Linked DNA regions of Homo sapiens. The protein of the gene in region 1 purifies or fractionates together with the protein of each later gene. This does not show direct contact. Each region holds a gene or a part of one and is shown in the gene's direction. Other genes may lie near its edges. The genes, in order: USP45, FARS2, YLPM1, SAFB and RTCA.

Evidence for each region.
Region 2: the proteins of USP45 (region 1) and FARS2 purify together in Homo sapiens (affinity purification with mass spectrometry; one large-scale study listed by BioGRID and IntAct). This does not show direct contact.
Region 3: the proteins of USP45 (region 1) and YLPM1 purify together in Homo sapiens (affinity purification with mass spectrometry; one large-scale study listed by BioGRID and IntAct). This does not show direct contact.
Region 4: the proteins of USP45 (region 1) and SAFB purify together in Homo sapiens (affinity purification with mass spectrometry; one large-scale study listed by BioGRID and IntAct). This does not show direct contact.
Region 5: the proteins of USP45 (region 1) and RTCA purify together in Homo sapiens (affinity purification with mass spectrometry; one large-scale study listed by BioGRID and IntAct). This does not show direct contact.

Annotation. Positions count from the first base shown.
Region 1 is NC_000006.12:99,465,378-99,471,902, reverse strand, and holds part of USP45 (ubiquitin carboxyl-terminal hydrolase 45), read left to right. Parts: intron 1-3,284; coding exon 3,285-3,366; intron 3,367-3,372; exon of another isoform or gene 3,373-3,803; intron 3,804-5,139; coding exon 5,140-5,231; intron 5,232-6,525. UniProt on the Homo sapiens protein: Catalyzes the deubiquitination of SPDL1. Plays a role in the repair of UV-induced DNA damage via deubiquitination of ERCC1, promoting its recruitment to DNA damage sites. May be involved in the maintenance of photoreceptor function.
Region 2 is NC_000006.12:5,546,825-5,553,349, forward strand, and holds part of FARS2 (phenylalanine--tRNA ligase, mitochondrial), read left to right. Parts: intron 1-6,525. UniProt on the Homo sapiens protein: Is responsible for the charging of tRNA(Phe) with phenylalanine in mitochondrial translation.
Region 3 is NC_000014.9:74,768,332-74,774,856, forward strand, and holds part of YLPM1 (YLP motif-containing protein 1), read left to right. Parts: intron 1-3,360; exon of another isoform or gene 3,361-3,415; intron 3,416-6,525. UniProt on the Homo sapiens protein: Plays a role in the reduction of telomerase activity during differentiation of embryonic stem cells by binding to the core promoter of TERT and controlling its down-regulation.
Region 4 is NC_000019.10:5,663,622-5,670,146, forward strand, and holds the end of SAFB (scaffold attachment factor B1), read left to right. Parts: intron 1-400; coding exon 401-538; intron 539-775; coding exon 776-818; intron 819-3,424; coding exon 3,425-3,543; intron 3,544-3,725; coding exon 3,726-3,829; intron 3,830-4,198; coding exon 4,199-4,265; intron 4,266-4,540; coding exon 4,541-4,670; 3' UTR 4,671-4,857; downstream 4,858-6,525. UniProt on the Homo sapiens protein: Binds to scaffold/matrix attachment region (S/MAR) DNA and forms a molecular assembly point to allow the formation of a 'transcriptosomal' complex (consisting of SR proteins and RNA polymerase II) coupling transcription and RNA processing.
Region 5 is NC_000001.11:100,289,031-100,295,109, forward strand, and holds the end of RTCA (RNA 3'-terminal phosphate cyclase), read left to right. Parts: intron 1-2,372; coding exon 2,373-2,474; 3' UTR 2,475-3,739; downstream 3,740-6,079.

The DNA of each region.
Region 1 (6,525 bases):
ACAGTCCTGACGGTCAGCTACAGTATCAGGGCAGGAGCTGCATTGTCTGGCCTGGGAACTCCACAGCTGTTAATCATGCTGTTGTTGTAGGGTGTCACTGCCATGTGTTTCTTGATTGAAGGAAGGCTACAGTGTTATGTCTGCCACCAGAATCTTTTAGTAATGATGAAAAACTACTGACCTCCTTTCATATGGTTTCATTAAAGTCTTTTCTGAACTACAACATTGAGGAATATACTCTTGCTGAATATAGTACTTAAAGGATCATTTGTGCAGAAATTGTAAATTTTTCATGTACAAAATCAAATTTCCTAGAAGTAGTTCTTTTATAAGGCAGTCTTTTTAATTTATACATTTATGCTTCTTTGTTTTTTCCTTTTAATTTGCACAGTCACTAAATTAATGATACTATATTTTTATTATCTTCAAGATTTATTACTGTAATATATTTTTGGTTAGAATTATTTTAAAGACAGAATATCTCAGCTAAAACTGTACATTATTTTCATTCTTGTTTTTAAAGTATAAGGTGGAGATCTGAAATAGTTGAACCTTGATACTGCTAATTGATTAAGTGCTACAGTTATTAACAGCTCCCTGACCAAAGTATGTATCTTTCTTTTAACCTAAATTGTTCAAAGCACAACTCTTAACAATGAGGAATTGTATATGGACGTAAACTCATTTATTTTCCTCAACTTGATGAATTACCTATTAATTGACTTTTAAACAGTTTGGAGTAGAGAATATAAATTCACGGTTAGGATCAAAATTAAAAAGCAAAAGTCTAATATTTAAAAGTTAATAATGTAAACAATTTCATTTTACTCTTTTTAGAGTGTAATCACAGCTTTTTAGCTTTTTTCCTGCTGCTTGAATTGGTAACTTCTTAGCTTCTTTTGAGTGATATGACATTTCAGGATATATAGCAAAGTTTCATTAAATCATATCAAAAATCATGTCTGAATTAGTAAAATGTTTAAATTGTAGGATAAATTTACAGACTGAGTTGAGTTAGAAGTATTTCTCTTGAGTTGTTTGAAATGTTATGATTATCTGAAATATTTGCGAGTGAACATTGGTATTTATTGGAATTTTTCATTTAAGTTCATTAAATATTTCTCCTGCATGGAATTTACACAATTCCAATTTGCTTACTTTAGTTCAATAAATTCTTTTTTCAAGGTGTAAAAGCCAACTTTAGCTTAGACAATGTCTGAATTATATCAACTTTCAAATTTATTGAGTCTGAATTGGAGATTATTTCAGTATTTAATAGCTTCTGGGAGACATTTTATTGTTTGATTTCTTTATAGTATATAAGTGTATTTCAGGACTTGTGTCACACGGTATGAATTGCTTTATGTTTGCTTTTATCCCCTACTTTGTAAAATATTTAAGTGTTTTGAATCTTGTATTAATTTTCAAAATATGCTTGAGGACAGTGAACAGTTATAGGAAATATAATGTGTTAATCACAGGCCAGTTAGTAATAAGTGAAACTCGGTTTCACAATTGTTGGAGGAGGATGTGTTAAAAAACATATATCATACACAGAAGAAACATAAATCATACACAGCAGAACAATTCTGGGGGTCATGAGTGTCTTCTGCTTATCCAGGCAGCAGGGCATGGAGCGAGAATAAGAATGTGATCACCTCCTTCTCCATATAATATTGTGTTCTTAGATTAAAAGCATGTTATAATGGCAGAAGGGGATGTTGGTGTTGACAATATTTCTGATTCATAAGTCTCATTGCTCCAATCTGGGTTCTTTACCTCTCATATCTGATGTATAGGTGTCACTCTGGAATTCCTCCTAACCATGCTCCTGGGAGATCCCTTTGCCTCTCTTGTGTTTTGACTTTGCCATTGTTTATATCCCGTGTTCTTGTCTTTCTTCCTTTATGCTCTTTTTTTCCTTATTCAAAAGGTGGCATATACCATATATATAACTTGTACTTTGTCTTTTTTCACTTAATATATCATAGTGATCTTTTCCAATTAAAAGATAGGAAGGACCAGGCACCACCTGTAATCCCAGCACTTTGGGAGTTTGAGACCAGCCTGGGCAACATAGGAAGAGCCTGTCTCTACAAAACGAACAAACAAACAACAAAAAACAGGTGTGGCAGCTCATGCCTGTAATTCCAGCACTTTGGGAGGCTGAGGCAGGTGGCTTGCTTGAGCTCAGAAGCTCAAGGCCAGCCTGGGCAATATGGCAAAACCCCATCTCTACAAAAAAATTTTTAAAAATTAGCCAGGTGTCATGGTGTGTGCCTATAGTCCCAGGTACTTGGGAGGCTGAGGCAGTAGGATCACTTGAACCCAGAGAAGTCAAAGCTGCAGTGGGCAGTGATTACACCACTGCACTCCAGCCTGGGCAACAAAACAAGACTCTCAAAAAAAAAAAAAATATATATATATATATTATATATATATTAATTATATATATATTTTTTGGAAAGATAATTAAACTTTTCCCTCATCCTACTGTCATAATCTGAATTAGGAAGACAAAATTCATCCACTAATTAGGGGCATAGTTAATGTTAAAAGGTCACTTACTAAGTTTTATTCTTGGAGTATGTAGTTTTATTCTGAAACTTTTCTGTGAGATTGGATCTTTCCTAAAACATACACAAGAGATGTAGAAATAGTTAATATAAACCTTGTCATTTACTGAGAGCTGCTGAAAACATAATCATTATTGACAACTAAGTTCAAGTAAAACCATAATTAAAATTTGGGGGATTCTTCTTGCTATGGACATTAATTGATAAATTTGGACTTTAGTTATATGTGTATATAAATGAGGTAGTCCACATAGCATAGAGATTATAGTAACCAGCTTGATAGCTTCTTAATATAGAAAGGTCTTCATAGACAATAAATTTCATATGGTCTATTTTCTTTTTTGGTCCTAATTAAGAAGTGTCATTTTAGAGAGAGGGAGAAGGAAGAAAGAGGGCAAATTAATTTATGCTAAGCAACAGGACTAGGCTGCTTGCTTTTTGTACACTGATAAAAATACATTAAATCCAAGAGAGAACCTAAATGTAAAAATTCTGACTCTTACTTGGGAAAATTTGACATTAGAGCAATCTATTCATGGAATTTGAGACCTGGAAGAAATTACATTTTTTAAAAAATTTGGTCATTTTATTTTCAAACTAGGGAACTGAAATCCACAGTGTACCTTGCTGTTTGAAAGTACTTTTATTAGGAGGATGAGGCCTGAGTTAACTATTATTAGACCAGAATCTATTAACTTTGTTTTACAGCGAATACAAGCTAGCATTCTAAAAGCATTTAACAACCCAACTACTAAAACTGCTGATGATGAAACTAGAAAAAAAGTCAAAGGTATGTTGACTCTTTGTTAAAACTTTTTTCTTTAAGAAAATATTAAAATTTTATTTTAGTTGGAAAAAGAACTGAACATTATGTGAACTAATCCACCAAAGTAGTGGCTTTAAAAGGAGGACGTAGTTGCTGCAGTGTCTGAAAAATACTTTAGTGGAACATAGAAAATGCTAGAATGTATTCATGTGAATTTATAAGAATAAAGCTATACCAAGTATACAGATTGACACCGATACCTTTATGTGAGGTCTTCTAAGGGAAACTTGAAAGGTTGTTGAAAGTAGCAACCACACTTGGAAGTTCATATGTATCATATTGTATCATTTGACATGTGTTTGGATCAATGGATTTATGGATATTTTTTAGATGTAACTAGACAAAATGTTTAAGTGCTCCAAAGACTCCTGCAAATAAACCGTTTATTGAAGAGAGTGCTGGTAAGTCAAGTGTAAGTGCACTTTGCCTACTCCTAGTGTTTGCTATTCATCCATAAAAATATGAGCCCCAAATGATGATTACCTAATCAAAGTTGGTTATTTATCATTATCAATACTATATAGGGTTTATATACCTTGCCCTAAATGTATATTCTGCATTGAGATACTAACTAATGTTAGCATGAAGTGATTTTTAGAAGACATTTAAAAATATTATTTGTATTTTTTTCTAACTTTTGTTTTTGTGGTTTTATAATGTATGTACTACAGGTCTATAATTTGCAAACATACACACATTGTTACTGTGCACTTTATTGTAATTAAGGGTTCAAGATTTTTAAAAAACGTAGCTGCTCAAATATGCCTTGTTCTTTTGTGTTGAGATAGTGCCATCTCGTGGATGTTTAGAATAACAGCCCCGTTTTTCTTCCCCCTCTTTCCAGTTTTGTACTATTTCCAATCCCTTTTAGTTTTTCTAGAAGAAATATCTTTATTATTATAGTATTTCTAAATACAATTTTAATTAATGTTTACTGATATATTCACATGTTTTCTGTCATTCAGTGCTCTAATATTTTAAATGATTTTGAATATTGTTTGTATGAAACTTGAAGATAGAGGCTCAAAAAAGAAGTTTGAAAGAGGGGTGAATAGGTTTGTTAATATACTTTTTCCTCCCATGGTTTATGATGGAAAGTTTCAAATTTTTATTAAAGTAGAGAGAATAGCATAATGCAGCCCTTTATATCTGTCACCCAACTTAAACTGCGTTCATGGTTTATGTTTAATCCATTTTCTCCCAACCTCAGGTTATTTTAAACTAAGTCATTGGCATTTTTTTAATTTATAAATATTTCCTGAGCAGAATAATTTTAACTTTTAAAAATATAACCATGTTCTTGAGTTCTTAATTACCTATGTTAATTCCTTACACTTGCCTTTTACGACTGTTATTTTCATAGCCGTGATCCTGGCATCCGTAGTCCTGATAGCATAATCTCCTTTTCCATTCTTCTGGGTACTTATTGGTTAGACATGAGGTTTTATAAGTTTTAATGGGAGTGGTTGAGGTGTGGTACGAATAGTGGTTGTTTTGTTTTACCTCTTAAGAATAGTTCATTATTTCTTGGAGACTAAAGTAGTTGATAGTCGTAAATCTGCTACAAAATTGTAAAGGAGAAAGACTTTAGAATGTTGTATGTATAGTAAAATGTATTATTAAATGTAGTACAGAATATCTTATTCAGATTACTTTTGAATAACCAGAAGATAGCCTATTATACTGCTAGATGGATGGTTGACATGTTTTTTGCATTAAAAAGTATGATTTTTACAGCATATGGAAAAGAAGGTGTGAAAATGAACTTCATAGATCGGATCTTTATTGGTGAATTAACTAGCACGGTCATGTGTGAAGAATGTGCAAATGTAGGTACTTTAGAATTCAATTCAGCATGGAATGGATTACAATCACATCATTTTTATTATATTTTCTTTCACATATAATCATTGGCAGTCATTTTTAAAATTTGACAGATGATTACATAATGATTCTTGAAAGTCTTTTTATACGCTACACTCCTAGAAAGTAAATGTGATAATTTATATATTTTTAAAAGTAAATGTATTTTTGTGTTATTTTTCCTCATGACACACCTATGAGGCAGTTTTAGCCTATCTTAATATACTGAAATTCATTAGCTATCTGTTTGAAGTGAGAGAAAAACTTCTGTGAAGAGAGTAACTGTGCTACGTTGCAGTGCCCTAAAATGTAATTCCAGGCTGGGTGCAGTGGCTCATGCCTATAATCCCAGTACTTTGGGAGGCCAAGGCCGGCGGATCACTTGAGGTCAGGAATTCAAGACTAGCCTGGCCAACATGGTGAAACCCCATCTCTACTAAAAAAATACAAAACAATTAGCCAGGCATGGTGGTGGGTGCCTATAGTCCCAATGACTCGGGAGGCTGAGGCAGGAGAATCACTTGAACCCAGCAGGCAGGGTTGCAGTGAGCCGAGATCGCACTACTGCACTATAGCCTGGGTGACAGAGCGAGACTCAGTTTCAAAAAAAAAAAACTAATTCCAATAGAAATAACTTAATGTATTAACATAATTTAGGGTGGTTATATCACCTTTGATTTAAAGTTTATATGACGTATTAAAGATTTTTGTGTAGACTTCACTCACTTTGAACTTAATAATTTTTATTTTGAATGCCATCTTTAACAACTTAAAGCATGTATGAATTTTTTGTAGATTTTCAATTGCTTGGCAAGGAATATTTCTGTAAGTGTATGACTTAGAGTATGATAGGTTTAAATTTCTGTTAGATTTTAATAGTAAAAGGAGCCTTTATTCATTTTCCTGTCCCAGATTATGAGTATTTTTCTGTGTTCTCTAGCCTTAAAGAAGCAGGATTATAAAATATATCTCATTCTAGCCTGTCACATTGAAACACAGAATGCATGACCATGATTATTTAAGTTTCTAGACTATTCAACACAGAAGTTGTTTTCTCTCTCACAAGATAGAGAGTATCTTTTAAAACAAAATTATCTTAAAGAATCTATAAAACACAGCCAAGCTCTCTGCTTTTTTTCATGGCTTTTTCTTAACATTTCATAGTTTACTTATGTTACAGCCCTAAGCTAACCAAAAATGTCTAGTCTCTTTAGTTAATCTGTTTTATTAAACAGTTTTTTTAAGTTATTTTAAATATTA
Region 2 (6,525 bases), about 94 Mb from region 1:
TTGCATTTGCTTCCTTTTTAGAGTTTTCATTTATCTACTGAAATGCTTGATTTTTTCATCCATTTCATCCATTCTTCCTTAAATTCTTTCACATATTCATAATGGTTATTTTATTTTATTTTATTTTATTTTATTTATTTATTTTGAGACGGAGACTTGCTCTGTTCCCCAGGCTGGAGTGCAATGGCATGATCTCAGCTCACTGCAACCTCTGCCTCCTGGATTCAAGCAATTCTCCCACCTCAGCCTCCCGAGTAGCTGGGATTACAGGCATACACTGCCATGCCTGGCTAACTTTTGTATTTTTAGTAGATACAGGGTTTCACCATGTTGGCCAGGCTGGTCTCAAACTCCTGACCTCAGGTGATCTGCCCATCTTGGCCTCCCGAAGTGCTGGGATTACAGGTATGAACCACTGCGCCCGGCCTCATAATGGTTATTTTAAAGTACTTGTCTGTTAATTCCAACCATTTGATTATCTAGTGTTCTTTTGTTGTGGTTGTTTTCCCTTCCTAATCATGGCTTACATATTTCCTGCTGCTTCACTTGTCTTTTTGTTTTTTTTTTAATTGTGTTTGAATGGACAAAGACTGAGGTAGATAAAATTTATCCCCAGAAAGTCTTATGCTTTCTACCTTCTGGCTGCTAAGGTGACTAGGCCAGATCTTTTTGTTCTAATCAGGAGTTGAGTTGAATTTCACATCTGCTTTCCTCTTGATGGTGAGATCTAGCCCTGCAGCAGAGTTTGGGATCTAACCATGTGAGATCACAGGATCTCTTTCTGCTTTCCATCCACTTACCAGCTTCTTCCACCACCAGCGTTTGTAAGCAGAAATATTATGAAGGAGAATTGGCTGGCAGTGAGGGTTAGCTCTGTTTCTCCATTTTCCAATCTGCCATGCCAGCCCATGCTTGGCTGACGCAAGTGTGGCTCATTCTTCTTATTCCAACAAAATGTCTTTGCCAGTAGCAGGCTAGCTCTTCTGCCTACTCACGCCCCAGTGGCGACAGCAGCCATCAGTGTCTGTCTACCCTAGAAGGGCTCATCTCTCTCTGGAGTTATACTTATTTATATTTGTGTACAGACCTTTTCAACTGTATTAGTCCATTTTCATGCTGCTGATAAAGATATACCCCAGACTGGGAAGAAAAAGAGGTTTAATTGGACGTACAGTTCCACATGGCTGGGGAGGCCTCAGAATCATGGCGGTGGGCGAAAGGCACTTCTTACATGGCAGCAGCAAGAGAAAATGATGAAGAAGCAAAATCAGAAACCCCTGATAAACCCATCAGATCTTGTGAGACTTAATCACTATCACGAGAATAGCACAGGAAAGACCGGCCCCTGTGATTCCATTACCTCCACCTGAGTTGCTCCCACAACATGTGGGAATTCTGGGAGATACAATTGAAGTTGAGATTTGGGCGGGGACACAGCCAAACCATATCATCAACTTTAAGGACAGGTATGATTTTTATGAGTGTATTTTGTTATTGTTATAGTGAAGCACACTGATTTTGTGTGTGTGCCCATCTGCATCTTGAACCTTTCTATGTATATATGCATATATTTTTGGTTTTACCTTATGAGGACTTTTAAAAACTTCTACTTGAATAATTATCTGTTTTATTTTAGCATCAATTTCCTTGTAGACTAATTTGAAATAAAGCTGTATCTAATTTACAATAAAACCTGGCTAGGGCTGTAACTTTTTCTCATTCTCTTTTTAATATATTGTCAGTTATTTAATCAGCAAACATTTAAAGAACACCAACATCGTGTAGAATGGTGTGCTCAACACCATGGTGTGACAAATAAAGATGAAAAACACAGTTGCCACCAGAATTAAGTGGCTTAAATTCAATTTTAAGTGTACTTACAACAATCTTTTTTTATGAGACACATAGAAATAGACTCTTGATCTCTTGCACTAAATGTCATTTTTTTTCTCCTTTCTGCCTTCAAATTTGAAAGCCAATATATGCATACCTGCACTAATATATAATTTTTATAGTTGTCTTTGTGTAACAAACTTAAGAACTTCTAACGGGGCAATTAGGATTTGTACATTCATATTTAGTATATGTTCATAAAATACTTTGTGAAGTATAGATTATAGATCATACTATTACCTAAGTATTCACTTATAATTAGTATCTATTCTTGTTAGTTTCCTGTTGCTTAGGTAACCAGTTACCACAAATCTAGTAGCTTAAAACAACATGTATTTATTATTTTACAGTTCTAGAGGTCAGAAAACCAAAATCCACCCAACTGGGCTAAAGTTAAGGTGTCAGCAGGGCTGACTCCTTCTGTAGGCTCTTGGGGGAATCCACCTTCTTGACTTTTCTGGCTTTTTTTTTTTTTTAATTATACTTTAAGTTCTAGGGTACATGTGCACAACGTGCAGGTTTGTTACATATGTATACATGTGCCATGTTGGTTTGCTGCACCCATTAACTCGTCATTTACATTAGGTATTTCTCCTAATGTTATCCCTCCCTCTTCCCCCCACTCCACGACAGACCCTGGTGTGTGATGTTCCCTGCCCTGTGTCCAGGTGTTCTCATGGTTCAGTTCCCACCTATGAGTGAGAACATGCGGTATTTGGTTTTCTGTCCTTGTGAACTGTCACCTTTTCCGGCTTTTAAAGGCCATCCTCAGTCCTTGGATCACAGCCATGCATCATGTTGCCTTTTCTCTCTCCTTCATCTTTTGTCACATTGCCTTCTCTTTGACCTTTGCTTCTTTCTTATAAGGATCCTTATGATTGTATCAAGCCTTGCTGGGTAATTCAGGATAATCTTCCCATCTCAAAATACTTCTCTTAAAGTAATCCTTTAATACTTTAATACAAATTAATTCTCTAATACAAAAGGAAATGTAAATTTCCTGTTGAATATAAGGTAATGTATTTCTAGGTTACAGGGATTAGGACGTAGATATCTTTGGGTAGGGTTGGGGGCATTTTTCAGTCTACCAGAGTCTTCCCTTTGACCCCTAAAGATTCACATCTGTCTTTTGTAAAATACATTCAGCCTATCCCAAGGTCCCACAAACTCTGAACCCATTGCAAAATCAACTCAAAATCCAAAATGTCATCTAAATATCATCAGCCCCTAAGTCCCATTTCATCATTTAATTATCTAAAGCTGGTTTATGTGACACTCTGGGTATGATTCATCCTGGGGCAAAATTCCTCCCCACTTTTGCACCTGAAGCGAGGTACCTACTCCCAAAATACAATGAGTAGGATAGGCATTGGAGAATAGTTGTAGACATTTCCATTCAAAAAGGGAGAAAATGAAAGGAGAAGAAAAAGAATCACTGGTTCCAAGCTATTTCAAAATTCAGCCATTAGGTTTCAAGGCCTGGGGATAATTCTCTGTGGCCCTTGGCTTCACCCATTTGACCTGTATTTCTACCCTCTAAAATATCCTTCTTTTTTAAAGTTCTTTTATTTATTTATGAGGCCAGGTCTTGCTCTTTCATCAGGCTGGAGCCCAGTGGTGCCATCACGGCTCACTGCAACCTCCACCTCCCAGGCTTACATCTCAGCCTCCCGAGTAGCTGGTACTACAAGCACATGGTACCACGCCCAGCCAATTTTTTGTGTTTTTAGTAGAGAAGGTGTCTTGCCATGTTGCCCAGGCTGTTCTTCAACTCCTGGGCTCAAGCAGTCTGCCTGCCTTGGCCTCCCACAGTGTCAGGGTTACAGGCATGATGAGCCACTGTGCCTTACCTCCTTTTTTGTTAAGGGTGGCATGTATATGCAGGTGAGTTGTTTTATTACCCTGGCTTTTGCCTGAAGAATTTGGGGAGTCAAATAGCCTTCTTTCTTTCCTTCTCTTTTTGTTCTTTTGTCCCTCTCAATTCCAGCTGACAGTGTTCCTGATGGTAAATCATTCTCAAAAACCTTGTGGCTCTCCCATTTATATCATAGGGATTCATTCCATTACACAAGAGGCTCCTCTGCAGATCTTTCTTGAATAATTCATTGCTATTTCTGGCTTCTGCTGAGACGCCTGAGGGGATCCTTGACTCATATGCTTAATTTCTTCAAAGAGCCCTCTGTTTGACTAAATACCCTGATCCTTCAAAACTTCTGAGGCATTAACAAAGGGTTGTATAGCTGCACTCATGGCTTTCTCTCCAAAGCACTTTTCTTTCAGCAAAACCCCTAACTTTTTGTCTTTTTCAGTATAGATAGGCTAAGAATTTCCCAAATTATCTAATCTTGCTCCTCTTTGCATAGCAGTTCTCTTAATTTGTCTGTTTTCTCCTGCAAGAATAAAGCAGGCTGCATTTTCACTGTTTGCTTGGAAATTTCCTCAGCTAAATATCCAAGTTCATTGTTTACAAGTTTTGCTTTCCACTTCCAATTCATCTAATTCTGCCGCTATGAATGAACAAGGATCCCCTTTCCTCCACCTTCCACTAACATGTTCCTCATTTCCTTGCGAGCCCTCACCAGCAGGGCTTTTGACATCTGTATTGCTACCACCAGTATGTTTATGAATATTTGGATATTCTCAGACAGTATAGGTTTTCTCTACCATGCTCCTCACTTTTTCCTTGCCTGTCACAGTCTATAACATCCATATTTCTACAAGAGTCTCTTTAAGGCAAAATAGCCATTTAATATCATGGTGCTCCAAGTTATCTACTACCCACTGACCAATTCCAAGGCTAATTCCACATTTTTATGTATTTGTTACAAGCAATACCTCACTTCCAGATACAAAAATACGTATTAGTTTCTTGTTGCTGCTATAATAAATTACCACAAACTTAGAAGCTTAAAACAACATGAGCTTATTATCTTATATTTTTGGAGGACAGAAATCCAGAATCAGCCTGATTGGCCTAAAGTAAAGGTGTCAGCAGGGCTGGTTCCTTCTGGAGGCTCTGGGGGAGAATCTGTTCCCTTGCCTTTGCCCGTCTAGAGACAGTCCTCAGTTCTTAGCTTATGACAGCATCACGTTGCCTTCCCCCAAGCCCTGCCACTTCCCTCTGTAAACACCTCACCCTCTCTCTGAATTTTTGCCTCCCTCTTCGAAGGACTCTTCTGATTACATGGAACCCACCAGGATATTCAGGATAATCACCTCATCTGAACATCCTTCCTTAATTATATCTATAAAGATCTTAATGTAGGATAACGTATTCTCAGGTTCCAGGGAGTAAGAGATGGATATCTGTGGAAGGGGGCTATTATTTAGCCTATCACTTGTGCCATTTTATATCCTATTTCGTCATGACAGATTGCTTGCCTTCAGATATAATAGAGTGGTTTGTCTTTAGGGATAAAAAATAAGGATAGTATTAAAGTGTTAGCCATTTTTAACTATTTATGTAGAGTAGTCATATTTACATATATAAGAGGGGACTGTGTTGACAGAAAACTTGTTTTATTACTACAGTTGACCTGCCTTGAGAAAAATACTTAAAATGATTGTAATTCTCTGCAATCTCAGAGGTGGGGCGAGAAAATGGGGAAAAGGCCTGCTGGCAGCTATGAACTTGTGGATCCCCTGGCCAGGAAACTCTGGAAGCCATTTGGGAATCCTATTGTGCAAGAAGCAGAAATTTCTCTTCCTTGGTCTCCTTTTAGGCCCTCCTAAGTGATGCTCTAGGCTGTGTTGGCTTCTGTGGTGTCTTTCTCTGTGCGGCCTCCACATCCTGTCCTGTACATTTTTCTGTCCAGCTGTGGGGCACTCTCCTGGGTGCTAGCAACAGTCTCTGATTGATGGGACCCTGAGTCCTCACCTGTGTGACTCTTTTCCTGCATACCTTGAAACCCATTGTTTAAATCTAGTCGGTAAGAAACTCAAGTTAAAATGTGATTTTAATTTTTGATTTTCATTTTACATATTTTGAATTAAGTGCTTTGCCTACCACGGCTTTCTTTAACCAACCTGGATCTGTGCTTGAGATAAGTGGGTCAACAATATGGTTGGTCTGTTATGCAAGTGATAACTTGTTCTGTCCACCACTGCAGCTTCCCATGCTGTATTCGTTCTGAGTGTTTGGGTCTTTGTTGCATATACTCCTGCCAACTCCCCTGAAGCAAAATTTGCTGTTTCAGTGCATTGAACTGAATATTCAATAATAAAACTTTAATTTATACTTTGTTTTTTAAACAGTCTAAAATTATGAATTCAATATTTAGTCCTACACAGAGCGATACTTATTGAAAATTACTCAACATTGTACATTTTACTTACAGATTTTATTAGAACTTACTAATTCTGTGTCTATCCATGGTGGCTTACAAGGTCAGCCCTCATTGGATGAAATAATTCAGCAATGTTGGCTGTTATCTTTTTTGCCAGTTGAAGGGTTTTACTGGCTCTCTTCTGAGGCCACAGACTATAATATTTCTAATCCTGAATGGAGTCTCAAATACTTATCACTGCAACAGGAGTAGATGAGGATGGATGGGTAGTGGCTGCAAACCTATGATACTACACTCTATCCAAGATGATAATACTGGTAGTTAGTAGTTAATACTTACTTCAGCC
Region 3 (6,525 bases), on another chromosome or scaffold:
TTCCACTTCCTGGGTTCAAACAATTCTGCCCTAGCCTCCCAAGTATATGGGATTACAGGTGCATGCTACCATGCCTGGCTAGTTTTTGTATTTTTAATAGAGATGGGGTTTCACCATGTTGGTCAGGCTGGTCTCGAACTCCTGACCTCAAGTGATCCACCTGCTTCGGCCTCCCAAAGTGCTGGGATTATAGACGTGAGCCACTGCGCCCGGTCGGAATGTGTCTTTTTGAATAATTAATTTTTCTATGTGTTTAAAGGACTGATTTATTTAGTTAAAGCTGTTGGCTTTGATTAGTTTTTAGAGGTATCATTTATTTAATGTTTAAATACTTACGGACTAGCAACTATGTGCCAGGTACTATGAGTACTGTGCTTAATACTGGAGATGAAATGGTTAACAAGATAGACATGGGACCTGCCCTCATTGACTTCTTGTTTCAGTTGTGGGGGAAGGGAGAAGACATTTAGTAAGTAATTAAGAGGAGACGTACAGAGTGCTATGGGATTATAAAATATCACTAGATTATTCCCCAAGGAACTGGCAAAGGCAAGTTTTTTGTTTTTTGTTTTTTTTTTAAGTTACCACTGTATTCACAGTACCTTGCATAGGATCTAGCGCATAGGAGGTGGAGAACAAATATATTTTAAATAATTGAATATAGCTGGGAGCGCTAACCTAATTAAAGAGGATTCCCTTTGTAAAGTGATATTTTTTATTTTTTATTTGTTTTTATTTTATTTTATTTATTTTTATTTTTTTGAGATGGAGTCTCGCTCTGTTGCCCAGGCTGGAGTGCAGTGGCGCGATCTCGGCTCACTGCAACCTCCGCCTTCCGGGTTTAAGCAATTTTCTGCCTCAGCCTCCCTAGTAACTGGGATTACAGGTGCCTGCCACCACGCCCGGCTAATTTTTTTGTATTTTTATCTTTTTTTTTTTTTTTTTTTTTTTTTTTTTGGAGACGAAGTCTCACTCTTGTTGCCCAGGCTGGGGTGCAATGGCACGATCTCGGCTCACTGCAACCTCTGCCTCCCGGGTTCAAACAATTCTCCTGCCTCAGCCTGCCTCAGCTACTCCCAGGAGTAGCTGGGATTACAGGCGCCTGCCACCACGCTTGGCTAATTTTTGTATTTTTAGTAGAGACGAGGTTTCACCATGTTGGCTAGGCTGGTCTCGAACTCCTGACCCCAGGTGATCTGCCTGTCTCAGCCTCCCAAAGTGCTGGGGTTACAGGTGTGAGTCAGAGTGCCCGGCCATTTTTTTTTGTATTTTTAGTACAGAAGAGGTTTCACCATCTTGGCCAGGCTGGTCTTGAACTCCTGACCTCGTGATCCACCTGCTACGGCCTCCCAAAGTGCTGGGATTACAGGCGTAAGCTGCCACGCCGGGCCTGTAAAGTGATATTTAAATGAACTCTAAAGAATAAGTAGGAGGACTGGGTGCTCACACCTGTAATCCCAGTTCTTTGGGCTCATTAGAGGCCGGGAGTTCAAGGCCAGCCTGGGCAACAAAGTGAGACACCCCCCCCCCCGCCCCCCGCCCACAAAAAGTTTAAAAAACTAGCCAGGTGGCCGGGCGCAGTGGCTCACGCCTGTAATCCCAGCACTTTGGGAGGCCTAGGCGGGCAGATCACGAGGTCAGAAGATCAAGACCATCCTGGCTAACATGGTGAAACCCCATCTCTACTAAAAATACAAAAAATTAGCCGGGCGTGGTGGTGGGCGCCTGTAGTCCCAACTTCTCAGGAAGCTGAGGCAGGAGAATGGTGTGAACCCGGGAGGCGGAGCTTGCAGTGAGCCGAGATCGCGCCACTGCACTCCAGCCTGGGCGACAGAGTGAGACTCCGACTCAAAAAAAAAAAAAACCTAGCCAGGCATGGTGTTGCATGCCTGTAGTGCCGGCTACTTGCGGGTGGCTGAGGTGGGAGGATTGTTTAAGCCCAGGAGTTCTCGTGCCACTGCACTCTAGCCTGGGCAACAGAGTGAGACCTAAAAAAAAAAAAAATGAGTAGGCCAGGTGCAGTGGCTGATGCCTGTAATCTCAGCACTTTGGGAGGCCAAGGCAGGCGGATCACTTGAAGTCAGGAGTTCAAGACCAGCCTGGCCAACATGGTGAAATTCTGTCTCTACTACAAATACAAAAAATTAGCTGGGTGTGGTGGTGCACGCTTTTAATCTCAGCTACTTGGGAGGCTGAGGTGGGAGGATCACTTGAACCCAGGAGGCAGAGGTTGCAGTGAGCCAAGATTGCCCCACTGCTCTCTAGCCTGGGCGACAGAGTGGGACTCCATCTCAGTTAAAAAAAAAGAAAAAGAGTAGAAATTAACCAGAAGTTAGAATTCAAAGAATTAAGTTCAATAAGGCTCACTGAAAGCTCAGGGTGAGGATGGTAGGTATGAACTAGATCAGGGAAGGCCTGTAAGGACTTCATTCTAAGGGCAGTTGGAAGCCATTGAAGGATTTTACATAGGTGAATGTGACAGATTGGCATTTTTGAAAGCTCACTCTGCTTGCAGTGTGGAGAGCAGAATTAAAAGGAGCAAGAGTGATTTAGAGAGAATAGTTATTGAAGTAATCCAGGCAAGAGATAATAGTGGTTTAGACTTTGATGGTATTAGTTGAGATGGAGAGAAGTGGGAAGAGTGGAGAAATATTTAGCTGCTAGAATTCACTTTGAGGTTGAGTAGTTATGGAGAGGGAGGCATCAAGAATGATTCTTAGGTTTCTGGGCTGGGCCGTAGGGTGGATGGTGGTCAAATTTACTAAAACAGAAAAACCTAAAGGAGGAGGAGGAAGAACATTTCTGGGGGTGAGGAGAAAATCATGAGTTAGGTTTCAGACATACTGAGTTTGGGGTTCTTGAGACATAGATTCCAAATGGAGATGTCCACTTGGAAGTTAGATATAGCTCTGGAGTCTAGATGTAAGATCTGGGAGACATAGATTTATAAGTCATCAGCATAAAAATGGTATTTGAAGACACAGAAATAGATGAAGCCTCTCAAGGAATGTGTGTAGAGTAAGAACTGAGGTTAAAGGACATTAAGCCTAGCTCCACAAATAGCAGTATCTAAGGGAACCAATGAAAGAATGGCCAAATAGGTATTCATATTAGGTTGGTGCAAAAGTAATTGCAGTTTTTGCTATTACTTTTAATGGCAAAACCACAGTTACTTTGGCACCAGTGTGATAGGTGGAAAATCAAGATAGTGGATAGTGCGTTGCCATGAACGTCAAGGAACAGACTCTAGGAGGAGGGAGTCGTCAGCTGTGTGAAGTACTGCTGAGACGTCAAGCAAGATAAAGACTGCGAGTTATCTTTTGCACCTACTGACATGTAGATTATTGTTGACCTTGGCAGGAGCAGTTTCATAGTGACTGAAGCCATATTGCATTGATTTGAGGAGTGATGGAAGGTGAGGAAATGGGGATGGTGAGTACAGACAACTCTTTCAAGAAGTTTGACTGAAGGAGAGAGAGAATGAGGGAAGGAGCTGGAGGAATAGATGAAGTAAATGAGCATTTAAAATAAAAATAGGTGGGGACTAAGCTTATCTGGTGACCCTGATTCTTACAGTAGAATGTGAATCTCAAAAATATTTAAGCCTATTTTAAATAAATTTCTAAAATGGAAACCCAATTCATTATTTTACCAGGTGTCCTCCCTGCCCCCTGCTTTAGAATATAAGACATAGAACATTGTCTTATAGGCATTTATGATAACCTGGATAGGGAAGGTAATCTTCTAAAATTAATCTTTAAAACATTACACACAAACACTCACCTCCTTTATAGTTCTCCACTTGGAAAATCATTTAGTATCTAGTTCATTACTAGCAGCAGTGGTCAGTAAGTGCTTCCTGAGTAAATTAAAATCAACATCTTTCTTTTTTTTTTTTTTTTCTCAGAGAGATGGGATCTTGCCATGTTGCCCAGGCTGGTCTGAATTCCTGGGCTCAAGCGATATTCGTGCCTCGGCAGCATCTTTCTTAATAACAGTATTTGTGACAAATAGTTCTATATTCTTAATTTTTTTTTTTTTTTTGAGATGGAGTCTCGCTCTCACCCAGGCTGAAGTGCAGTGGCGCGAGGATCTGGGCTCACTGCAACCTCCGCCTCCCAGGTTCAAGCGATTCTCCTGCCTCAGCCTCCCGAGTAGCTGGGATTACAGGCATGTGCCACCACACCCAGCTAAGTTTTGTATTTTTAGTAGAGACAGGGTTTCACCATGTTGGTCAGGCTGGTCTCGAACTCCTCACCTTGTGATCCGCCCGCCTTGGCCTCCCAAAGTGCTGGGATTACAGATGTGAGCCACCGCACCCAGCCAATAGTTCTACATTCTTTATGTTTGAAATCCCTTCATTCAATCTCGTTTTAAATGTGACCTATATTATGATTTCCCTCTACCTATAAAACAACATCCCATATGAAATGGAGTTATCTGATATGATGGGACATTCAGAAGAGCTGGCATCATTAGCAAGTTCAGGCATTTTTTTTCTTTCTAAAATAGGGATGATCACACTTCTCTTAGGGTCAGTAAGGACATTTGTGAGTGATATCATTATTATTTATTTGCAGAGCTTCAAAAATGTGCTGAAGCCTACCATAGGATTGAATTAGATCTGGTTACTACTTATAGGGTTCATATTAAATAGAAATTGACCTACAAGGCGGCCGGGCACGGTGGCTCACGCCTGTAATCCCAGCACTTTGGGAGGCTGAGGTGGGCGGATCACAAGGTCAGGAGATCGAGACCATCCTGGCTAACATGGTGAAACCCCGTCTCTACTAAAAAATATAAAAAATTAGCCGGGCGTGGTGGCGGGCGCCTGTAGTCCCAACTACTCAGGAGGCTGAGGCAGGAGAATGGCGTGAACTCGGGAGGCGGAGCTTGCAGTGAGCCGAGATCGCGCCACTGCGCTCCAGCCTGGGCGACAGAGCGAGACTCCATCTCAAGAAAAAAAAAAGAGAAATTGACCTACAAGGCATACTGTCAGTGAATCAACAAGTACTTCAGCCCTTAACAAGTTCTTAACCCTGGTCTGGATCTAAGACAAAGCATGAGAATAGGTGATGAAGAAGCTGATAAAGAATCTGGACCTGTACAGTTTTCATTCTGTACAGTCTTCATATCTGTAGCATTGGCTTAGTTTGTGAAAGATAGTTTGCATCTTTGTATCTTTTAATAATGCTTTCAAAGCAACTTTAAAAAAGGAAACTTTTAACTTCTACTTGAAAGAGAATGTACTAATTTTTTTAAAACTGAAGGATAAGTCTGTTGATGTTTTCAGTATTAAAATAATGGAAGGAAGTGTTTTAATGCTACATTATTATTATTATTGGCTTTGGCTTTCATGGTCAGTGTGCTGTTTTCTTTCTTTTTTTTTTTTTTTTTTTTTTTTTTTGAGACAGAGTCTTTCTCTGTTGCCCAGGCTGGAGTGCAATGGCACGATCTCGGCTCACTGCAACCTCCGCCTCCCAGGTTCAGGGGATTCTCCTGCCTCACCCTCCGGAGTAGCTGAGATTATAGGTGTGTGCCACCACACCCTACTAATTTTTGTATTTTTAGTAGAGGCGAGGTTTCACCGTGTTGGCCAGGCTGGTCTCGAACTCCTGACCTCAGGTGACCTGCCCGCCTAGACCTCCCAAAGTACTGGGATTACAGGCATGAGCCACTGTGCCTGGCCAAGTGTGCTGTTTTCTTACGTTGAATAGTAAAAGTACAGATACTCTTTGACTTACAGTGGGGTTACATCTCAATAAACCCATTGTAAGTTGAGGATAATGTAAGTTGAACATTTAATACACCTAGCCTACTGAATACCATAGTTTAGCCTAGCTATTAAATGTGCTCAGAAAGTTTACATTAGGCAAAGTCATCTGGCCACACAGTACACAGTAGAGTATTGGTTTTTTTCTTGTTTTGTTTTGTTTTCTTTGAGATGGAGTCAGTGAGTGGTGCGATCTTGGCTCACTGCAACCTCCACCTCCTGGGTTCAAGCGAGTCTCCCGTCTCAGCCTCCCAAGTAGCTGGGATTACAGGCACCTGCGACCATGGCCCAGCTAATTTTTTTGTATTTTTTTTGTTTTGAGACGGAGTCTCGCTCTGTCGCCCAGGCTGGAGTGCAGTGGCGTGATCTCGGCTCACTGCAACCTCCGCCTCCTGGGTTCATGCCATTCTCCTGCCTCAGCCTCCCAAGTAGCTGGGACTACAGGTGCCTGCCACCATGCCAGGTTAATTTTTTTATATTTTTAGGAGAGATGGGGTTTCACCGTGTTAGCCAGGATGGTCTTGATCTCCTGACCTCATGATCTACCTGCCTCGGCCTCCCAGAGTGCTGGGATTACAGGCGTGAGCCACTGCGCTCCGCCTTTTTTTTTTTGTATTTTTGTAGAGACGGGGTTTCACCATGTTGGCCAGGCTGGTCTTGAACTCCTGACCTTAGGTGATCAGCCCACCTTGGCCTCCCAAAGTGCTGGGATTACAGGTGTGAGCCACTGCACCTGGCCGAGGATTGATTGT
Region 4 (6,525 bases), on another chromosome or scaffold:
GCTGCTGGCAGGGCAGGAGGTCAGCTTTGGGGCGAGAGAGATGGCAGGTGCACTTGACAGAGCCCCTCGGGGTGGAGGCTCACGTGGTCTTCCTGAGCGGAGGTGGCTGTGTAGGGCTCCAGAAGCCATCTGCAGGCAGCCCATAGGACTGACTGCTTAACTAATGGCTCCCTCTTTGGAAAACCGAGGCCGCTTTTCATCAGGGGAGGTGGGTGCATGGGACAAAACAAAACAACTGTGCAGTCACTGGGGTCAAATCAGACCTTGCCTCCTATAGGAGAGAACACTCTTGGTGAAAGTCATCCTGGTTCTGTGAAGTGCTAGGGGCCAGCTCCCACAAAGGTGATAGATACATTTGGGGTGGGGGATCCCTCTATCTCTGTCTCATGTCCCCTCACAGGCGAGATGATGCCTATTGGCCGGAAGCCAAGCGGGCCGCCCTGGATGAGCGCTACCATTCTGACTTTAACCGCCAGGACCGCTTCCACGACTTTGACCACAGGGACCGCGGCCGCTACCCCGACCACTCGGTGGACAGGTCAGTTGGGCCCCTGCTGGGCGTGCGGGTTTTCTTTTTCCTGGCTCATTCTGACTGAGAACAAGGACTCCTGGGCTCTCTGAACCCACTCCGTTCATCAGATGTATGCTGAGTCAGACCCGCAGGTCTCCTGCCTTCAGTTAGGGAAATTATGCTTTTCATTGGGGGCCTGATGGTCCTCTCTTTGTGAACAAGCCTCTTCTTCCCCTTACGGTTTGATTTAAATTGCCTTTTCAGGAGAGAAGGTTCAAGGTCAATGATGGGAGAACGAGAAGGACAGGTAAGTCTGAAGCTACAGTGGTAGCCACAGAATTTCCCATAGAATGGGTTCTTTTCCCTTCAGCGTGCCTTCTTCCTGCCCTTTCTTTGAGCAAGAGGCAAAATGAGGAAAGAGAAAAGTAAAGCACTAGAAAAGTCTAGGTTTGTGGAATGGAAATTTGGGATTATTTGGGGTTAGTCTTGGCTGTCAGTCCAAACAGTTACTCTGAAGCTGTTTTTAGCCTTGACCCTGGGGTTCTGTGTGCCACACTCACCACACATGTGCAACAGTGCCAGGGAACCTTGGGATGTGACCTGGCTCTGCTGGGAAGTGTCTAGTGAGCCGCACAGCTGACTCAGACAGGTGCATCTGGGGAGGCTGTGGTTGCTGTGTCTGTCCTCGAGTGCCTGCCCTCTTTTGAAAGTAAGGACATCCTTCATCACCCCAGGGCCCAGCTTAGCCTTGGAAAACAACTAGATCTGTGGTCTGTGCTCATTCTCTTCGGGGGCTAGCACATTAGAACAATAAGCTCCATTTTCTCCTTCCATCTTACATTGAGACTGAGACTTCCCAGGAGAGCCTTGGACCTCTAGTGGCTTTCCCTATAAACTTGGGGGCAGCACATTGCTGTGTGGAAGATGCCTCCTCTCTGAGGACTCCACTCATGAGCCCTTCCTCCTCCTGCCAGCATTTTCTGGACTCCACCATAAGCTTCCCGCTTCTGTCCCCCTTGGTTCCTTAATGTGGCTGAGCATAGCCAAGTACTCAGCTCTGTCTCGGGATCCTCAGGAATTCCATCAGCCTCGTGGGGTTCCTTTTTCCCTGCTCCTGGAGGCAAATTATATGCAGCAAAACGTAGAACTAGTCTTGTGGATTTTCTTTGGTGGAGGAGCATACACCAATGGTTCCATGTAAAGGCTCCAGAATCAGAACTGGCGTCACACCTTGGTGTCACCCCTTCCTGCTGAGCCTGTCTCCCCAGGAGTGAAATGAGGGTAATATTCCTCCTACAAAGGGTGCGGTGGTGGGGGTTTACATGAGGTGGGCGCATCTGTACAAACGTGTTTATCATTGCCAGCTACTTTTTTTTTTTTTTAATAGAGACGGGATCTCACTATGTTGCCCAGGCCAGTTTTGAACTCCTGAGCTCAAGTGATCCTCCTACCTCGGCCTCCCAAAGTGCTAGGATTACAGATGTGAGCCAGCACACCTGGCCACCAGCTGCTTTCATGAAGGTGTTAGATATGCTCTCCTAACAGTGGAACGCGGTTTGATCCCTTCTCCTCACATACACAGTCATAAATGAGTCGTCAGAGTTACCCCAAAGGGAAATGGTAACATCTCCCTACAGAGAAAACTAGCACAGAACTTATGGGCCTCATTGAACAGTTACGTGGGTTGGTTGGACAGAAAAATGTTGGTTCAATTTTCAAATACTAAGGAGAGCTTATTTCAGGAGTCCCTTTTCTTACTTTGTTGAGGGGAGGCATCAGAGCACATGCTGGGAGGATAGGCCAGGAAGCAGGCAGTGGTAACGTGGGACATCGTGCACGTGGTGGAGCATGCCGCCATCTCTCCCTTCACCCTGGCAGAGCTCTCCGTTGAACGGGGAGGTGAACTTGGACATGGACAACAACCAGCCTGTGTCAAGGGGGTTTCCTTACCAGGACTCCTTTCTAGTTTCCTTTCACCTACAATGTGGTCATGGGGCAAAAACCCCAGAGACCACATATGTATTGGTGGAAAGAGAAAAAACAGGACTGTGGAGCCAAAGCTACCTCACTAGCTTTTGTGAAAGTCAGGCTGGAAAGTGCTTCCAGCCACAGAAATAGGCTGTGGGTGTAAATATTAACCTTGGCCATCAAATAAGTAGGCATAGAGTGTGACTCGCCCTCTCTTGGTCTTCCCTGAAACAGCAGGGTCAAGAACTCCTGGTCTGTGTTAGCCACGTGGCTTACAAAAACAATGACACAGAAGAGGGAAAGGTGGGACTAGCCAAGTGGAAGGCCAGCCGTTTATCTCTCAGTGTCCTGTGTCTTATATCCTGAGCAGAGCAAGGTGCAAGACCCTGGACTGGGCATCCAGCAGAAACTTCCGAGAAACTTGACTGTGAGGAAGGATGCTTGCCTAGCAATTGGTCGGATGAAGGGCTCCATTTGATACTTCCTTCACTGTGGAAGGAAGAAATTTGTAAAAATTATTTCCAGAATATGCACACATTAAAGGTTTATAAACCTGACCTTTCTTTAGTAGAAGACAGTAAGAGAATACTGTTGGCTCTGGGAACTAACCATTTGAGCTGTGGGACCCAGGGAATCTCTCTTGTAAGCATCATCTTTAGTGGGTGACTCCTGGTGGCCCTCCCAGCTCTGGTGGTGCTGTGGGGACCTGCCTTGGAGATGCCTTGGTACTAGTACCTTTTTTGTACCAGGCCATGAGCCTAGGGCACAGGGCCTCTGGCCTGCAGATTTCAGGAAGGCAGCTGTGTTGTGTGAACCGATACAGCCTGCCAGCACTTCTGTCCCGAGTGACTGTCGTTGTCATCGTTAGCATGTTGCCTGAAAAGCCTTGGGGTCTGGGCGCTGACACTGAAGCTTTTTTTTCCCTTCTGGCTCTGTGATGTCCAGCATTACCCAGAACGCCATGGAGGACCAGAGCGCCACGGCCGGGACTCCCGCGATGGCTGGGGGGGCTATGGCTCTGACAAGAGGATGAGCGAGGGCCGGGGGCTGCCTCCTCCCCCCAGGTTTGTGTCCCACACCCGACAGTACCTGACCCCCCCCCCGCCCACAAGGGGGCCCGCAAGTCGCTGGGATGTGGGCACAGGGTGGGAAACACAGAGGGATTCACTCTCCAGAAGCCGCCACAGTTATTAGCACAAGAGCCAGAGATGGGGGCAATCCAAATCAGAGATGTCTCTCTTTCAAGGGGCAGACGTGACTGGGGGGACCATGGCCGAAGAGAGGATGACCGGTCATGGCAGGGCACGGCCGACGGGGGCATGATGGACAGGGATCACAAGAGGTGGCAAGGTGAGGAGCAGCTCTGGGCTGGGACCAGGATGTGCTGGGGAGTGATGGAAAGATGGAGGCCGCGCCTTCTCTCCTTGGGGGAGCACAGGAGGTGCTCTGCTCTCAGTGCTGGAATGAGGAATGAAGAGCACTCCAGACACCGCCTGCTCTCTGGTGGTCTGGCCCAGGAGTTGGACAGTGGGCGTTCCCGAGTTCTCTCTGCTGGGAGGAAGCTGGACGTCTATGGTCCCTGTGCCCAGGTGTCTTCCTGGGACCCGCTAGTTGTGGGTACCTGGGGGCCTCACCAAAGGGAGTGGAGTGGGCTAAATGTGCCGTGGGTTCCACGCCGTGTGCGCAAGTTCCCTGTGTGAAAGCACGTCTGTCTTCCAGGTGGCGAGAGAAGCATGTCCGGTCACTCCGGGCCTGGCCACATGATGAACCGAGGAGGAATGTCAGGGTAAGGCATGCTGGGGGCGGCGCCCCTTCCCCCTGCTTTGCATATTGGCCTACCTTGCTGGAGGCTTAACAACCAAGTCCTTCCAGCTAGTGCCCCTCCCCCCAAGGGTGACGTGAGGCCAGGCATGGGGTACTGTGGAGGCTGCTGCCACTCAGGAGGGGAGGGCATTAGGAAGGGGCCCTGCCTGCAGGCAACACTCAGGGAAGCTGTGCAGGCTGGGATGGGCCGGGGAGCAGGAGGACTTCGCAGTCAAACCAATGTGAATTTGTTCCTAGGCGCGGCAGCTTTGCCCCAGGCGGGGCCTCCCGGGGCCACCCCATCCCACACGGTGGCATGCAGGGCGGGTTTGGAGGCCAGAGCCGGGGGAGCAGGCCCAGCGATGCCCGCTTCACTCGCCGCTACTGAGTACTTGGAATCCTGTGTCCTGTCTCGTGGCAACAAGGCTATGTTCTGTTAGGAGTTACCTTAAACTGTGTAAAAATATTTTTTTTTAATCTGCTGCCATATTGTAGCTCAATACAATGTGAATTTGTTTTTCGTTTTGGGGTTTTTTTTTTTTGTAATAAATGTGTTTCCGTTCACATACCCTTTATTTAAAGTGTCATTTCTTTATTTCTGCCTCTTTAAATGAAACGAAATTAGACTTTTAGTTGTATTGATATACACTGATTGTTCCTTTTTTTAATTATTATTATTATTTTTTTTTTTTTTTGAGATGGAGTCTCGCTCCGCCACCCAGGCCTGAGAGTGCAGTGGCGCGATCTTGGCTCACTGCAGCCTCCACCTCCAGGGTTCAAGTGATTCTTCTGCCTCAGCCTCCCGAGTAGCTGGGACTACAGGCGCCTGCCACCACACCCGGCTAATTTTTATATTTTTAGTAGAGACGGGGTTTCGCCATATTCGTCAGGCTGGTCTTGAACTCCTGACCTCATGATCTGCCCGCCTTGGCCTCCCAAAGTGGTAGGATTACAGGCGTGAACCACCACGCCAGGCCGACTCTGTTTATTTTTAAATATGTGTGAAACCTCTGGGAAGGCATCCGGGTGTGGAAGAGGCTTTCCAGTGAGACAGTGATTGGTTTTCGCATAATGGGCCTGTGCGGTGCAGGTTTTGCCTGACTTCTCAAGTCACCGAGTTCTCCTTTAATGTTAGCACAGACCGGGCTGCTTTGCTCTTGGGTACTGGGTGGCATCCCTGTCAGGGTGTGGGGGTCTCAAACCCTGTTGATGGACACTGGCGGATGCTTCCCCTGCGGATCACACTCGAACCAAGCCTGCGAAGATTTCCAGCTGCCACTCTCCACACTGACTTGCCAAAGCCCAGGCACCATCATCATGTGGATGCTTCCGCATTACCTTTTTACTCAGAGGACAAACTATTTTCACGGCAGAGTCGGGTGGAAGCAGTGAAGGCTGAAGGTCATCAGCAGCATCTCAGGCCCGAGGCGTGCTTGTGCACAGGCTCAGCCCCCTCGTGCCAGGATGGGGCTCTGACCAGCCCAGGGCTGGCCTCTGTGTCAGCCGGAAGGGACGAGCCCAACGCCAACCCTCCACACACCAGCAGCAAGCTGGAGCCACGGCATCTGGGATCCAGCACCTGTCCTAATCCAGGAAGCCAGGCCAGACTTGGGACATACCTCAAACTGTGAAGCAAGTGCCTCCCCCATTTTGTAAGCCTCACTGTAGTGGAGAGCGGGGAGGAAGCAGTGTCCAGCAGAGAGGAAGACGGCGGAGCCCCAGTAACGCTCTAGGGTCCCTTCAGCTGCAAAGGACAGATGACCCCACCAATACCAGTGGTGGCTTAGATGGTAAAGGGGGGCCCTTTCCTGCCTTAACGGGAAGTTTGTAGGTAGGCAGTTCCCGGGGCTCACTGCAGCCCACCTCAGGCTCTGTTTCTCTGAGGATTTTGGGACTCTCATGGATGATGGATGGCTGAAACAGCTCCAAAAATCCTATCCACCCACAGTGTGGGCATCATCGGGGCTATCCAGCAGGAGAAGGAAGGGCAGGAACGGGGACTTGAACTCACAGGCCTCTTGGCAAACTTACCCCTGAGGCTCCTTAGCCAGAACTCGGTCCTGTGCTCGCCTTTCTTGCAACCCGTCCCTGGCGAAGACGGAATGTTTCTCTTCAGAAGGGATGTGACATCCGGGAAGGAACCCAGTGGTAACCCCCAGCAACCACGTTCTCAGCCTTCCCCTCGTACCTTTTTTTTTTTTTTTAAATTCAAGCTGTTCACATTCTCTGTACTTTTTTTTTTT
Region 5 (6,079 bases), on another chromosome or scaffold:
CTAGGCTGGTCTCAAACTCCTGGCCTTACGCGATCTGCCTGCCTTGGCCTCCCAAAGTGCAGGGATTACAGGCATGAGCCACCGCGCCTGGCCTTTCTTTTTTTTTTTTCTTTTAAGAGACAGGGGCTTGCTCTGTTGCCCAGGCTAGATTACAATGGCAGTATCATAGCTCACAGTAGCCCCGAACTCCTGGGCTCAAGTGATCCTTTCACCTCAGCCTATCAAGTAGCTAGGACTGCAGCTGTGCACCACCACACCCTGCTAATTTTTTTTTTGTTTTTGTTTTTGTTTTTTGAGAGACGGGATCTCCCTGTGTTGCCCAGGCTGGTCCTGAACTCCTGGGCTCAAGTGATCCTCCCACCTCAGCTTCCCAAATGCCGTGATTACAGCTGTGAGCTACTGTGCCCAGTTTGATTCTTAATTATGTATACTTTTAATTGTTATTAAGAAACATAGATAAGTTTTTGTTAAATTGTAGGAAAGACTGATGGGAATTAAAGGCAAATTGTATTTGATGTCAAGAGTGTTAACTCTATTTTTTTTGTTACTCTACTTATGCTGTATTTATAACTATTACTTGTCTGTCTCTCCTTATAGATTGATCTCCTTAATAGCAGAGATCAGGTTTTATTCATTATATTCTTTACTTTTCACAGTACTTTACATATAGTAGATGCTTACTTGTTATTTGAAATGTATACATAACGGAAAGTGCTATGAACCTGTGTATAGCTTGTATCTTGGTCAGCTTTGTTGTGTATAACTGGGTGACTTGGGGCAAGTTTCTTATCTTTCTTTGTCTCAATGCAAATAGTTATCTGTAAAATCAGACTTAAGCTAGATAGGCCTGCTATGCTCCTTTCAGGTCTACATATTTGTAGTTTTAAGTAGGTTTATGTATAGGCTAGAAATGATTTTCATAGCTGCTACGTGTGTTTCATATTTACATAATGCTTGTAATTTGAAAAATATATAAACGCATGCATATATTACTAATTAATTAATATGGTTACCTAGCTCAGAATTCAGCATTTATTCATTCAACAGTAATTTCAAGTGTCCACTCTGTGTCAGTACATTACCATGTAATGCTGAAAGTGAAAGAATTTTTAAACATTACTATTCATTCAGTAAGGCCCCCAAGTGATGGTTTTCAAATTGTGCTTCCAAGAATCCTAAGATTTTAGGCATATTTGAAATCCTTTTGCCACAAACTTAACCTATTTAATTGTTTTGATTTTTTTTTTTAAGACGTTGATGGGAGTTGTGAGGAGTCTTCCTGTGTTGCCCAGGCCAGCCTCCTGAACTGAACTCAAATGATCCTTCCACCTCAGAATAGCTGGGATTATAGGTGTGCACCACTGCACCTGGCTAGTTGTTTTGATTCTAAATTTAGTTTTGTTAAAATGAATCACATTTGCTTTAAAAATAATGATGTTTTCAAAATACAGTGATATAGGCCAGGCACAATGACTCATGCCTGTAATCCCAGCGCTTTAGGAAGCTGACGCAGGAGGATCACTTCAGCCTAGGAGTTTGAGCCTGGGCAACAAAGTGAGACCCTGCCTATACAACAGAATTAAAAATTAGCCAGGCATGGTGGCATGTGCCTGTGGTCCCAGCTACACTGGAGGCTGAGGCAGGAGGATCCCTTGAACCCAGGAAGTTGAGGCTGCAGTGAGCCGTGTTCATGCCACTGCACTGCAGCCTGGGTGACAGAGCAAGACTCTGTCTCAAAAACAGAACAAAAACAAAAGCAAAATACAATGATACAGGTAAAATATTTCAAAGCCAACTTTAGTTACTAAGTGAAAAATGTGATGTTAAGCCCAGTACATTAAAGATGAAGGAAGATGTTAATCACCACCACCACCCCTCCTCCCCACATACCTTCTCTGAACTGGATCTTTTGAACGATATATATAGGGAACTAAATTAGCAAGAAAAAATGTAAAGAAATTAAAGGGTAATTTGTGACTTGACAAGATAAAAGTAGAAATGTTTCAGAAAAATTTTAGGGCATAGGGAATACAGTTGCATTAAAATTACCATTTGAGGTTTCAAAATTGTTATTTGCCTAAGCTGTACATCTGAGCTTTCTGATTCAGTGTGCGTGGAAGGGGCCCAGGCATATATATTTGGACAAAACTCACAGGTATGTATACCTCTGAAGAAGAACCATGGTTGTACAATGAAATGTGTTATCTTGAGGCTATTAAGTTTCTTTCTCATCAATCATTTGATCTTTGTGTCTCTGTAGGTTTTTCAATAAAATGGGCTTGACATTAACTCTCTGCCTACATAAGTTGGAGTTGTGGGCTCTTTCCTCCATCTCTCTTCGTATTACTTATATACTCCTCTTCTGATTTCAGGCTAAATTTATTGTGAAGAAATCAGAAGATGAAGAAGACGCCGCTAAAGATACTTATATTATTGAATGCCAAGGAATTGGGATGACAAATCCAAATCTATAGAGTATTTGCCTCTTAAATGATACCTCATTGATATATTGCACTATTTCATAAATACTATAAAATAATGACTAGGAAGTAACTTATTAAAGGCTATGACTTAAATTTGAAGATGAAGTACAGTGTTCTAGGTTTGCTGAGAAGGCTTCATTAAATTAATCTCACTTTGAATATCTCCTGAGAGATGGACAATGAAATATCAGTTGGTGGATATGTGTGATAGCTGATTTCAATATTGAAGTATTGAAATAAAATATTCTTTACACCTGAAGTAAATACATTTTTCTTTTTTATGTAATTAATTAAATCAGGGATATAGATTTGATCTGTAATTTGGGTATAATTCTAATCTTTGCTGAAATCACATCTCAAGTATAATGAGGCAACTTTATGCAAATGTACTTGTTGTGACAACAATAACATTTTCCTTTTTTTTTTTTTTTTTTGAGACAGTCTCGTTCTGTCACCCAGGCTGGGGTGCTGTGGTGTGATCTTGGCTCACTGCAACCTCTGCCTCCCGGGTTCAAGCAATTCTACTGCCTCAGCTTCCTGAGTAGTTGGTATTACACCACCATGCCCAGCTAATTTTTGTATTTTTAGTAGAGACAGGGTTTCACCATATTGGTCAGGCTGGTTTCGAACTCCTGACCTCGTGATCTGCCCGCCTCGGCCTCCCAAAGTGGTGGGATTACAGGCGTGAGCCAGTGCACCCGGCAACAATAACATTTAATAGGCATTGTCTCATTCTAATGATATATACCTTCTACCTAGTGGGCACTTTGTACATATTTATTTTTTATTTTATTTATTCATTTTTTTTGAGACAGAGTCTCACTCTGTCACCAAGTTGGAGTGCAGTGGCACAATCTCAGCTCACTGCAACCTCCGCCTTCCAGGTTGAAGTGATTCTCCAGCCTCAGCCTCCCGAGTAGCTGGGACTCCAGGCACGTACCACCATACCCAGATAATTTTTGCATTTTTAGTAGAGACGGGGTTTCACCATGTTGGCTAGGATGGTCTCCATCTCCTGACCTCGTGATCCGCCCACCTTGGCCTCCCAAAGTGCTGGGATTACAGGCATGAGCCACCACAGCTGGTCGTAAATATTTTTTGAATTTGAATCTGTTTTGGAAGCCAAATATGTTTTGGAAGCCAAACAATTAAGAGAAGTAAAATTTTAACCCTAGTAGGTTTCGCAGATTCATCCCCAGATATGTTTTTGTTTGGCTTGTGTTATTAACAAATAAATGAGTGTCTTTCAAATGGAATGTGCTTTCATTATTCTCTGTTATCTTACACCCAACATGCTTCCACATTTAGATGTTTTCCTGTTCCCGGTAGCAGTTGAGGTTGTGACTCAAAGGAAATCAGTTTGGTATGTCAGCTTAATGTGTTGTACTACAATAGAGTGTGTAATTCATTAAAACTTGGGTCTATCTTGGACCTTTTCTCATGATGATTAAAACATAGTCCAAAATGTAGATCCAGAGGATGCTCTATGATACATTTAGAAAGTCCTGAATTAGTCTGTATGGAACAGTAAAATGAAAAAAGTTGCCATGTACATAGTCATTATTCTTATCCTTGTCTGTGATATCTATGACCTTGGACAGTTGGGTTCAATTTGCTTTAAAGTTGATAATAGTGTTACTTGCTGTTTATGTTTTCACATAGTGGGTAAGTTTTGTAAGTTATTCATTTCTGTAATAGTTGAGATATATCTTTCTATTTTAGAGTAAAACTTTTTTAGAGTAATACTACACTTGTTGTTCGAGGGATTGTGATAAATTTGGGGGTCTTCAGACTGAAATGATTTCTGTACTTCTGATGAGGTGTGCCAGCAGTGTTAAAGGTGTAGGCTGGAGTGCAGAGATTTTGCCTCTGGGAGTGAGAGATTTAAATTCAACAGTATACACGGGGAGTTTACGATTAATCTTGGCTTAGATGTGTCACTGTTATTGAGTCTCAGCGGTAAGTCCTACAAGTGACTTGAATTTCTATTTTCCAAAAAACTTCTATTCTTATGTCTGTTCTTTATCTAAAATTCCATTTCAGTATGTTTGTTTGTTTGTTTTAAACTACCAAATGCAAGTAGTTCTGTTGATTTGACACTGTAGAACAGTCTTTTAAGAATATTCTTTAAACCAGTGGCCTTCAAACAGGGGTATTCCTACCACTTGAGTTTTACAACGCTTTTCCATGAGATTCAGGTTTTGCAGATGTCAGTGGTTTTTAGAGAATTAGTTTCCAAGTTTTGCTACTTAAATGTGTACTTTCTCCTAAAATTGAGTTGCTTAAAGTCAAGGTAGGTGTTTGAAGGTTCTTTTTAGCATCTTTTTCACAATTGCCATTCTTCCTTTTTACATAAGAAGTTTATTTTTTACCAGTCTTAGTGCATTTTCCCAGAGTTGTAAGAAAATCTCCAGGGTACCACATAAAGGGGCATTTTGAAATACTAGTCTCTGAAAAGCCCACTCAAACTAAGATATGAACCTGCATCTTATTTGTGTATTTTGCATGATTTTAAATAAGGAGGAGAAAGCTTCATTAATATGTTTATCTATTCAGTGTTTCAATAGATAAACATTACATCTTTAAACAGAATTTTCTTTTCTGATTACTAGGAGAACCATTTTTTTTTTAATTGCCAAAACGCTATTAGAATGTTTAAATCCTTTTAAACTTTGGGAGTTTACTGCTTAGTAAAAATTTCACTTCATTGCTCTCTATTCATCCCTACCATGTGCAGTGTGCTCTAGCTTCTATAATCTATCTTATATTATTGTGTAGTTTACATATTATTAATAGATATATAGATGGTGTTTTGTTTTGAGACAGTCTCAAAAGTGCTCAACAGCTGCCTATTGAATTATTAAATATGTCCTCAATAATGCTAATTTGGTGAACAATTTCATTTCCCTTTATGTTCTTCTGTCCTGGTTGTGATACTGAATTATTAATTATTAATTTTTATTTTTTTTGAGACGGAGTCTCACTCTGTTGCCAGGCTGGAGTGCAGTGGCGTAATCTTGGCTCACTGCAACCTCCGCCTCCCGGGTTCAAGTGATTCTCCTGCCTCAGCCTCCTGAGTAGCTGGCACTACAGGCGCGCACCACCACGCCCGGCTAATTTTTTTGTATTTTTAGTAGAGATGGGATTTCACCATGTTGTCCAAGATAGTCTGTATCTCTTTGCTTCGTGATCTGCCTGCCTCTGCCTCCCAATGTGCTGGGATTACAGGTGTGAGCCACCTTACCTGGCCTTAATACATCTTTTTTTTTTTTTTTTTTGAGAGGGAGTCTCGCTCTGTCACCCAGGCTGGAGTGCAGTGGCACCATCTCGGCTCACTGCAAGCTCCGCCTCCTGGATTCACGCCATTCTCCTGCCTCAGCCTCCGGAGTAGCTGGGACTACAGGCGCCCGCCCCCACGCCCGGCTAATTTTTTGTATTTTGTTTAGTAGAGATAGGGTTTCACCGTATTAGCCAGGATGGTCTGGATCTCCTGACCTCGTGATCCGCCCGTCTCGGCCTCCCAAAGTGCTGGGATTACAGGCGTGAGCCACCGTGCCCAGCCAATACATATTTTTAAGTCCCACACTTGCTTGATA